Regions from separate parts of the Homo sapiens genome. Here region 1 is linked to region 2. The links come from fine-mapping of genetic effects on gene expression. A gene starts in region 2. The other region holds a variant in brackets. All regions are shown on one strand. Distances are between the middles of the regions. Region 1 holds the start of PTDSS2 (phosphatidylserine synthase 2). Region 2 holds the start of RNH1 (ribonuclease/angiogenin inhibitor 1).

The links.
Region 1: its variant is fine-mapped to the expression of RNH1 in cerebellar hemisphere (GTEx, PIP 0.97).

Annotation. Positions count from the first base shown.
Region 1 is chr11:449,350-454,709 of GRCh38, reverse strand. PTDSS2 (phosphatidylserine synthase 2) reads right to left here and starts at 4,431. Exons shown (of 12, transcript NM_030783.3): 1 at 4,073-4,431. The coding sequence starts at 4,254. RefSeq lists silencers at 3,747-3,836, 3,847-3,906, 4,097-4,336 and enhancers at 4,367-4,646, 4,245-4,931. The variant G/C (reference allele first, on the strand shown) is at 2,834.
Region 2 is chr11:505,101-510,460 of GRCh38, reverse strand. It overlaps RNH1 (ribonuclease/angiogenin inhibitor 1), which reads left to right and starts at 3,219. Exons shown (of 11, transcript NM_203387.3): 1 at 3,219-3,348. It also overlaps a transcript of LRRC56 not described here. RefSeq lists a cis regulatory region at 3,865 and an enhancer at 3,781-3,950.

The sequences.
Region 1 (5,360 bases), 56 kb after region 2:
CCTCAGCCTCCCAAGCAGCTGGGATTACAGGCGCCCGCCACCACACCCAGCTAATTTTTGTATTTTTAGTAGAGACCGGGTTTCACCATATTGGCCAGGCTGGTCTTAAACTCCTGACCTCGTGATCCACCTGCCTCGGCCTCCCAAAGTGCTGGGATTACAGGCGTAAAACTTGACTCCTTTAATACGACTTTCCACGACAGAGACCTTCCTGTGGTTTCTAAAGTGGCCACCAACCCAACACTCACTCCTTGTGTAGCCCAGGGAAACGCTGATCATTGATCAACCCTAACCCAACACCATCTTTCCATTTCCCCAAAACACAGAGATTACCTGAAATATAAAGGTAACCCTTCGCCCCTTCAGGTAAATGTGCACACTGTCATTGAGGTGGCCACCGAGTGCCCAGCACCCTCCTGGCCCTGGGGAAGCAGAAATGGGAATGAAGAGGACCCAACAGGAAGGGAGGCAGAGGGTAAGGGACCCAGAGAAAGGGCACCAGGCACAGCAGCCCTGCAGGAGGACACATCTCAGAGCTGCTCAAATCCAACGCTCCTGGAAAGTAAGGTCCGTATTAGTGAGCTCCAGTCCTTGTCCTACACGCAGCACGACGTCTACACATCTTGGAAGTGACAGAGTGCCGCTCAAGATAGCATGAGACTCTCAAGGGAAGAATTCCGTGTCCCTCCCAGGACGCCAGGTCTGTTCAATGGCTCCTCCCACCCGCCTGCAGACTCTGCAGGACGGTGTATGTCCTGTGATCAGACACAGAACAGAGCTGTGATCAATCCTGGCAATTCAGCCACTTCACTAGGGTGAGGGCGTGAAGACAGCTGGCTCCCTGCCATGGGGAGTGGAAAAGACCCAGCTGCCTCCTTGGAGATGGTCACTCTCATGTCCACTCTCATGGTGGGCAGGGAGGCCGAGACCAAGAGGAAAACGCGGCGTCGTCGTCCAAAGGGCCAAGGAAAGGCCACGCCTGGATGGGCAGCCCAAGGCCTGCGAGAGGCTCCTGGACCGGGCACTGGCCCTTCTGGCTCTGACCAGCAAGACCAGAAAGACTTCATCTGGCTACTCGCGCCTCCCAGGTGTAGGCAAAGCTGGGAAAGCCCCGATCCAGGATGATGGAGAAAGGCATCTTCCAGAAACCTGGGGTATCTGAAGGTCAGAGGTCACCTCACACATAAAGTCCTCAGGTCACTGAGAAGGCTCATTTGAGGCACCCCATTCCAAGACACAAGCATACAATAAAAACTCTCAGAACATCACAGTGGCCCCCAGCTCGGGAACTGGTTAGCAAGTGTGGTCATCCGAAGCTGCTTCAGCGTCTCCCACAGACAGGCGGCAACGTTCACAGGCACCTCGCCAGGGTAAGGGGTCCCCAAGTGTTCTCCCAAACAATTTCCAGACCGCATGAGCTGCCACATCTTCGCACAGGGCTTCTCGGAGTCTGTGGATCTAAACGTTTTCCTCTGGATGTTCCCCATAATTGTCCTTGCTACCCTGAATGAATCCAGAGAAGGAGAGCTCAGCCTCGTGCTCCCAGGGCCAGTCAAGCCCTGAATCGAACCGCACGCCCTATCCCTATGGCTGACAAGCAGTCACAGAGAAACAAAATTCACACATGGCCGCCGTCACTGGCCCGAGGAAGTGCACCCATCCTTGAAAATGAACGCCCTGGCTGGATGTGGTGGTGCATGCCTGTAATCTCAGCAATCTGGGAGGCTGAGGCGGAAGGATCACTTGAGGCCAGGAGTTGAAGACCAGCCTGGGCAACACAGGGGGACCCTCTATTAAAAATAAATAAATAAATAAAAATGAATAAAAAATAAAAAGTAAAACTCTCTAAAACACAAAATTAGAGTTAAAAAAATGCCAGCACAGCAAGTCAGTGCAGGTGGACTCAGGAGGTCAGTGTGAGGCTCTGCAGGTAATGAATTCTCACCAGGCAGGCATTGAGTTACCTGCCACCCAGAAGCGTGAAGCTCCTTCCTCTGCACAGGGAAGGGAGGAGGCACAGCAAGAACCTGCCCCATGCGTCTCTACAGGGACAGGGTCGAGGGGAAAGCCAGAGCCAGAGCCACCCACCCAGAAGACCCAGGAAGGAGGTACCTGGACCAGCCAGCCCCGCTGCACCCGCTCCTGGAGAGCCCTCCTGACCCCCTTGGCCTCCTGACAGGCAAGCTCTGCTGCGCCCAGCCGTCTGTGTCCCAAACACCCCTTGTGGGCAGGGACCACTGGTCTGGGCTTCTAAAGAGACCGGCCCCCTCCTACCTTTGGGCTGCTGCTCCTGCTTCCCTGGTACTGGGTGGGCTGCGCAGGCTTGCATGTGCCCCCTGGCTCCTGCCACACTCAGCACCCAGCCAGCACATTTTGAGCCTTCTGAAGTTCCATGCCTGCACCAGAATCTAAGCTTCTTGTTTAGTTCTCTGCTATGTCCCGTAGAACGGTAACTGACAGGCAGTAGGGGTCCCCACAATGTGCTGAACGGCCAAATGAGAAACAAGAAGAGCCAGTCTGGTCTCCTCGCTCCGGGACCTCAGAGGAGCCCGTCTGTTCTCCTTGCTCCGGGATGTCAGAGGAGCCCGTCTGGTCTTCTTGCTCCGGGACCTCAGAAGAGCCAGTCTGGTCTCCTTGCTCCAGGACCTCAGAGACTCCGGTGGTCCCCAGCTGTGCTGCGGGAGGACAGCCTGAAGGGGTGTGGCAGGGCACCTGATGGAGAGGCCTGATGTCCACAGGGCCCGGAAGCCAGAGGGTCCACGTGGCAGGCACCCCATCTCCTCTCCCTCCCGAGGGCCCCGCAGCCACCCGGTACACTCATCTCCCCAAAGGA[G/C]AGCTCGGATGCCCTCCCTGCAACAGCAGCTGCCCACACCTCACGGAAGACCCTGCGTGGGGCCTCCTCCACCCTAACCTGCTTTCCCACCACTTGGACAGTCTCTCTCCAGAGCTTCGGCTGCGGTGACAGGCCAGGACCGGTTAAGTCCCTGTCTGTGGTGGCGCCTTCCCCTGACAAGTCCCTTACTCCTCCATCAGGCCCTCCTCGCCCCTCAGATTTGCTCTCCGACCATCCCACAGCATGGTTCTCTTGGAAGCGTCCATAAAGCCTTCCTTCCACTGCTGGCCGCAGGCGCCTGTCTCCCACACGTTTTCCTGGGGCTGACCCCACCTCTACTGCCCCTGTGCCCCCGGGCCTTCCACAGGATGGGAACTGGGCACCTTGCAGTCAAGAAGAGCCAAACCCTCCTCTCACGAAGCCTGCTTTCAGGTCGACGGCTTGATCCTTCTCACAGAGGAGCATCGGCAAAGGGCCAGCCCAGGGTCGCAGCTGTCGGGAGTAGGAGCGGCACCTGGAGCCTGTCTGGACACAGAGTGCCACACTCCAGCTGCTCCCGGGGGCCTCTTCCTTTTCCACCCCCATTAAAGGCAGAGTGGCGGACAGGGGGACCCCAAGGTGTAGCTAGGGCTGAGTTGTGCAGGGAGGAGGCGCTGGCCCCGCTAGGGGCAACTGAGGAGAGAAACAGAGCCTGGATTCGACGAACACCGACTACATTCCTGAAGCACGCACAACACTCTGCTAATCAACACGATCGCCACGTGGGGTCGGGCGCGACACACAAGATGATTTCGTGCAGCCGCAAGCACTGAGGAGCAACCACAGGCAGAATGACGGGGGACACAGGTGAAGCTTCGACAGCAGGACAGAGAAAGCGTTTCTGGGGTGACGCTGGAGGCGGGTGGCGGGGAAGGGGTCTGGATCGCAGAACCGCGCGGTCAGAGCCAAGGCGGGCAGGGGTGGGGAGGGCGGCGAGAGAGACGCAAAGCGGCCGCAGGGAGGGTCTGCCCAGGGTCTCCCCCACCTACAGCGCCGCCCTCCGCCCGACCCGGCGTCGGGAGCTCGGTCCGGCCGCTCCCCGGGACCCGGGGGGCGGTGCTGCCACACCCTCAAACCCCCGGCCACAGTCCTGGACTCCAAGACGGCGAGAGGGCGCTGCCGGGGACCCCCAGGCCAGCGGTGCCGGAACCCCCAGGTCGAGGGCACCCTCGCCGCCCCGCGGCCGCCCACTGCCCTCACCAGAAGAAGGTGTTGGTGCCGTCGTCGTAGACCTCGGACTCGGTGCTGCGGCGGCCCTCGCCCGGCCCGGTGGCTTGGCCGGCAGACGGCCCGTCAGGCGGCTCCTCCAGCGAGGCCCTGCCCGCGGGCACCGGGGACTCGGGCCGCGGACCTCCGGCGTCCCTGCGCTCGCCCCTCCGCATGGCGTTTCGGCCCGGAGCCACTCCGCCCGGCGCCTCGACCCCACGCACACCGGGTCACCGGCGAGAGGACGCGCCGCACACAGCGCGAGGAGCGCTGGGAAGGGGTCGCGGCGCTGGCCCGCGGGGTCTTAGGAGAGCAGCGCGGGGCCGGCCAGTAAAGGGTGTGCGGTGCATTGTGGGGCTTGTAGTCCGCGCGGGGCATGCTGGGCCTTGTGGTCCGACGTCGCGGGTTGGACGCAGTGCTTGCTGGGAAGGATGACGCCTGGTTGCTGGGAAACCGGAGCCGGACCGCCCTGCGGCTGAGGTCGCAGGAACCAAGCTGCGGATGGCGCGGGTCTCGCCAAGGCCTCCAGAGCTTGGAGGTAACCACAGACATCCCCGGCGGCCTGGCCCGAGTCCCTCCACCCCTTCGCCCCTTCCTCGCCGACGGATCCCGGAGCCCAGCCCCGTTCTCCTTTTGGGGCGCTTCCCGACCCTTCACCCCATGCGACCCGGGTCATTCCTTTTTGAGACGGAGTCTCGCACTGCCGCCCGAGCTGGAGTGCAATGGCGCGATCCCGGCTCACTGCAACCTCCGCCTCTCGGATTCAAACGATTCTTCTGTCTCAAGCTTCCCGAGTAGCTGGGATTACAGGCGGCCGCCATCACGCCCGGCTAATTTTTGTATTTTTAGTAGAGACGGGGTTTCACTATGTTGGCCAGGCCAATCTCGAACTCCTGACCTTGTGATCTGCCGCCTCGGCCTCCCAAAGTGCTGGGATTACAGGCGCGAGCCACCGCGCCCGGACCGGTCTGGGTCATTCTTTCGCAGGATCGCGTGAAATTGGGCGGGCGAAAATGGTGCGGACACGCTGATTTTAGTTGACCCAAATTGTTGACATGGTACCCTGCAAAAAAATTAGCTCCTGAGCCACTCTGAAAAGCAATGTGGCAGCTCCTCAAACCTGGAAACAAGTGTCCACGCCAAATTTACACACTAGCGCTCCTAGTTGCAGCATTTTGATAATAGCGGCATGTTATTAGCCATAGAGGAGCGAAGCATGCGCATGCTACAGCACAGCTGGACCTTGAAAACATTATGCTAGGCAGGCCGGGCGCGGCGGCGC
Region 2 (5,360 bases):
CAGCCATTTTTTTGTATTTTTAGTAGAGATGGGGTTTCACCATGTTGGCCAGGCTAGTCTTGAACTCCTGACCTCAAATGATCCGCCTGCCTCGGCCTCCCAACGTGCTGGGATTACAGGCGTGAGCCACCGTGCCTGACCTGAGTATATTTATAGAAGTAGAACAGGCACAGGACTCTCCACCCAAAGTCACCCTGGTGCCTCTCTCCCCGGGGTCTGACTTAGGCCTTCAGCACCACGGTGTTTTCTCTAGATGGCATCTCATGAACACTGGGGGTCTCTTGCCTCAGCCTGTCCCTGGATTCCCTTTCATGGGGAATGTAAAAGCTCCCTATTTAAGCTAACGTGTAGGCTGGTGGGGCTGGATGTGAGGGAGGGGCAGGTGGAGAAGGAAAGGGCAGCATCCCTCAGATCTGTGTGGAGCAGGATCGGAAGGAAAGGCACACTCGAGTCGGCCAGGACCCGGGGAAATGAGCGAGAATGGTCAGCTCTGGGGCGGTATATAAAACTGGGGGTGGGAATACTTCCATATACTCCCAATTCCACAGTGGGTGAACTGAGTAAGTTTAAAAATAAGATAAAGACATAACGAGGTGAGGCAGGTAAGTTCAAAAATAAAAATGAAGGCCAGGCACTTTGGGAGGTTGAGGCGGGCGAATCACAAGGTCAGGAGCTCGAGACCATCCTGGCTAACACGCTGAAACCCTGTCTCTATTAAAATTACAAAAAAAAAAAAAAAAAAAAAATTAGCCGGGCGTGGTGGCAGGTGCCTGTAGTCCCAGCTACTCGGGAGGCTGAGGCAGGAGAATGGCTTGAACCTGGGAGGCGGAGCTTACAGTGAGCCGAGATCGCGCCACTGCACTCCAGCCTGGGCGACAGAGCGAGACTCCATCTCAATAAAATAAAATAAAAATGAAGACATACCTTTCAGGGGCTGTGGCCGCACTGTCCAGGAGGGAGGCCCGGCCACAGACACCATGCTGGCCGTGCGCTCAGCACCTATACATACCTGGGCACCTTCCCCACAAGGTGTCACAAAAGGGAGCCCAACAGCCATTTTAAACATTTTCTTCACTCTTATGAGAATTGCCACGAACAAATCTAAGAGATCATGGCAAAGAAAAGAATGAAATGAAACCAGAACATTTCAGCAGCTTTTGCAAAGATGTCAAGAGAACCAGTCCAGGAGTCAGACTGGCGGCATCCTTCCAGCTTCTTGTCATGAATTCTAAACCTCACATCCAGACTCCAAAGCTTAGAGAGTTAAAGAATCAGCTACTGGTCACCAAGCTCACGTGTGCAGGATGAGGGTCACAGCCAGGTTGGCTGCCTTCCAGCCCTGAGCTTTCTTGGGGGTGTGTGTGTGTGTGTGTGAACCACCTTCTTTTTGAGACGGAGTTTCTTTTTTCTTTTTTGAGATGGAGTTTCGCTCTTGTTGCCCAGGCTGGAGTACAGTGGCACGATCTTGGCTCACTGCAACCTCTGCCTCCTGGGTTCAAGTGGTTCTCCTGCCTCAGCCTCCTGAGTAGCTGGGATTACAGGCATGCACCACCATGCCTGGCTAAGTTTTTGTAATTTTAGTAGAGATGGGGTTTCATCATCTTGGCCAGGCTGGTCTTGAACTCCTGACCTCAGGTGATCTGCCTGCCTTGGCCTCCCAAAGTGTTGGAATTACAGGTGTGAGCCACCGCGCCCAGCCAGAGTTTCATCTTGTTGCCCGAACTGGAGTGCAATGGTGTGGTCTAGGCTCGCTGCAACCTCTGCTTCCCGTGTTCAAGCGATTCTCCTGCCTCAGCCTCCCAAGTAGCTGGAATTACAGGTGCCCACCACCATGCCTGGCTAATTTTTGTATTTTTAGTAGAGATGGGGTTTCACCACGTTGGCCAGGCTGGTCTTGAACTCCTGACCTCAGGTGATCCACCCTTCTCGGTCTCCCAAAGTGTTGGGGTTACAGGTGTGAGCCACCACGCCCGGCCAGAACCACCTTCTTTAAAGATGATCAGGCCGGGTGTAGTGGCTTATGCCAGTAATTCCAGCGATATGGGAGGCTGAAGCAGGAGGATCACTTGAGCCCAATTCAAGACCAGGCTGGGCAACACAGGGAGACCTCTTCTCTACATAAAATACAACAATTAGCCAGGCGTGCTGGCGCCTGTGGTACCAGCTACTTGGGAGGCTGAGGCGGGAGGATCACTGGAGTCCGGGAGGTGGAGGCTGCAGCGAGCTGGGATCGCGCCACTGCAGTACAGCCTAAGCAGTGGAGTGAGACCCTGTCTCGAAAACAAATACCTAATAAAGGCAGTCAGAGGAGAGGTTTAGCAAATTGCTAAAGAACAAATCTGAGATACCGTTAGTTTCCTTACTTGCAATCTTCATCTGCCAAAATGTCAATTCTGTGAATTGCGGACTAGTCAAAAACTTAAAGAAAACCCACTTTTGTGGAGGTGGGGTCGCTTTGCGTTTCCCAGGCTGGTCTGGAACTCGGCCTGCGCCCCTCAGTGCCAGGGCTCCAGGCGACGCTCGGGTGTCGGCAGCAGAGTGGACGCAGGAGCAGCTCGGACCGCGCTCAGAACACTCGGGACGAGGCCGCGGCTCCGCAGGCCTTGCGGGCTGGGGTCCCACGAAACAAAGGCGGCAGCCAGTGGCCAGGACGGGCAGCGTGGTTCACGGGGCCGTGGCTCCCTCGGGGGTCGCGAGCTCGGCGCAAACGAGCCCCTCTACCAAGGTCGCCTAGAGTCGCGACCCCGACATGCGGAGCCGCCCCAGGGGGGTTTCTCCCGGGTCCCTCCTGTCCCGAGGCGGCCGCTTTCTCCGGGGGCCGCGCCCCGCGCCCCAGCAAGGCCCGACCCGCGCCTGCGATTCCGCCCCCAAGGCGCTGCCGCACCGGGCCCCGGCCTCTTCCTCCGAGGATTCTCAGGAATTGCTGAGACTTGCGTGCCAGTGCGAGGCCCACAACACGCACACGCGCCCGCGCCCGCCAGACCCCGCCCCCGGCACCAAGCCCCGCCTACTGGGGGAGACCACGCCCCCAAGCGAGACCTCCCTCACCGAGCCACGCCCCACCAGGCCCCGCCGCTGCGCCAAGACTGTGCTTAGCCGAGCCCCGCCCGCCGGGCCCCGCCCCGACCCCGAGACTACTCCCGCCAGGCCCCGCCCCCGCGCCGAGCCCCGCCCAGTAGTCCCCGCCCACGCACCTGACCACGCCCACGAGCCGGCTCGAACACGCCCGCGCCGCTGACTGGCGGGTGGGGTTGTCGACACGTTCAACCCGTTCTGCTGGCTCGAGAACGAAGTAGGCCGTCTCGCTCTGGGTCTCCAGGCCCGCGACCGTCCGCCAGTCGTCCCGAGGTCAGTAGCTCCAGCGGTGCGTCAGCGTCTAGCCAGGCCTCGCCCACGCCGGCCTTGGTCGGGCTTCTTGTAGACGCGGGCCTGGCGCTATTGAGGCCGTTGCTGCGCGGGCGAGTGGCGCGCTCCCGTGGCGGGGCGGGGTCGGGCGGGGCAGGGGTCCGGGGCTATCGAGGCGGGGCCGAGGTTGCGCTGGGCAGCTGCGCCGCCGGGCGGACGTGGCGCGCCTTGAGGACGTCATCGCGGTGCACGCTCCCCTTTGGGGCTTGCCGGAAGTCCTTGCCCGGGGCGCGGGGCTGCGCCTGCGTGGTTCGTCCTCACGTGGCCGTCAAGCCCTCTAGTGCCTTAGATTCCAGCGAGCTACGCAAGCAATCCTGGCCCAGCCGAGCTTGCTTCCCCAAATCCCGTAATCCTTGACCTTATTCCCCCAAAGAAGCGGCCTCCCGGGAAGGAGCGCCCTGGCGGAGAAGACTCGAACGGCTCCCACAGCCGGGCGTTGGGGGAAAGGTGGGCGGTCTTGGTCGTGCGAGGTCGGGGAGGGAGGGTCCTCCGCTCTCCATTGCGGAGCTTCGCTCCGGGACCACCGGGGGACCGGACGCCGGGCCGCGAAGCTGCCGCCTGGGGCTGCGGGGAGGAGAGCAACATAACTGGAATGGCACTTAGGGGCCGGTGTCAGGGTTGTCACCGGGGTTGGCGGAAATGACGAAGGGGCCCCAGGCACGTCGTGTTACTGGGCGAGGTTCCAGCCAAGGTGCCCACGCGCCTTGGGGGAAACCAGAGGACTTCTGCACCGTTTCCCGAGGACAGTTTGGCAGTGTTTCAGAAGGGCCTTAGAACCAGGCAGGCCCCCTTCTAGGATGGTGGAAAGCCTAAAGATCTGAAAACGGTCTCAAGTGTCGTCTTAGCGATTGGCTGACTAAACCGAATGCAAGCCGGAGACTGCACACGATGTTGCCGTTAACAGTTACACTGGGCCGGGCAGTCAGAGGCAGGCGGATCACCTGAGGTCAGGAGTTCGAGAACAGCCTGGCCAACATGGTGAAAACCCGTCTCTACTAAAAATACAAAATTAGCCGGGCGTGGTGGCAGGCGCCTATAATCCCAGCTACTTGGGAGGTTGAGGTAGGAGAATGGCTTGAACTCAGGAGGCGGAGGTTGCGGTGAGCCGAGATCGTGCCACTGCACTCCAGCCGGCTGACAAGAGCGAAACTCCTTCTCAAAAAAAAAAAAAAAAAAAAAAAGTTACATTAGGCTGGGTGCGCTGCAGCCTGTAATCCCAGCACTTTGGGAGGCCGAGGCGGGCGGATCTCTTGAGCCCAGGAGTTTGCGACCAACATACTGAGTTTGGCCAAAATAGTGAGACCCCCGTCTCTACAAAAGATAGAAAAAATTAGCCAGTTGCGGTAGTGAACGCTTGTAGTCCCAGCTACTTGGGACGCTGAGGGAGGAGGAGCACTTGAGCCCTGGAAGAGGAGGCTGCAGTGAGCTATTTTCTCATCCCTGCTATAACGAATTTGTCACAGGCTGTTTTATAGGCCTGGAGCTCAGAAGCCCGAAGTGAGTTTTAGGAGGTTAAAATCAAGGTGTTGGCAAGGGTAGTTCCTTCTGGAGTTTCCCAAGGAGAATCTGCTTCTTTTCCTCTTCCAACTTCTAGAGGCCACCTTCTTCCATCTTCAAAACCTACTGTCTCTGCATAAGAACTCTCATGATTATATGCCGGCCGCCCAGACACCCCAGGGTAGCCTTCACATCTCAATATTCTTAATATTTGCAAAGTCCCTTTTGCCACTTAAGGTAACACCACAGGTTTGGAGATTAGGAGGTGGACATCTTTCAGGGCCATTCTTATTTTAAAAAATGTACTGTCGATAAGAATAGTTAAAATGTAAAATATTTGAAGGGATTTATTCTGAATCGAATATGAGTGACCGCGGCCGGTGACACAGCCCTCAGGGGATCCTGGGAACATGTGCCCAAGGTGGTTGGGGCAGTTTGGTTTTACATGTTTTAGAGAG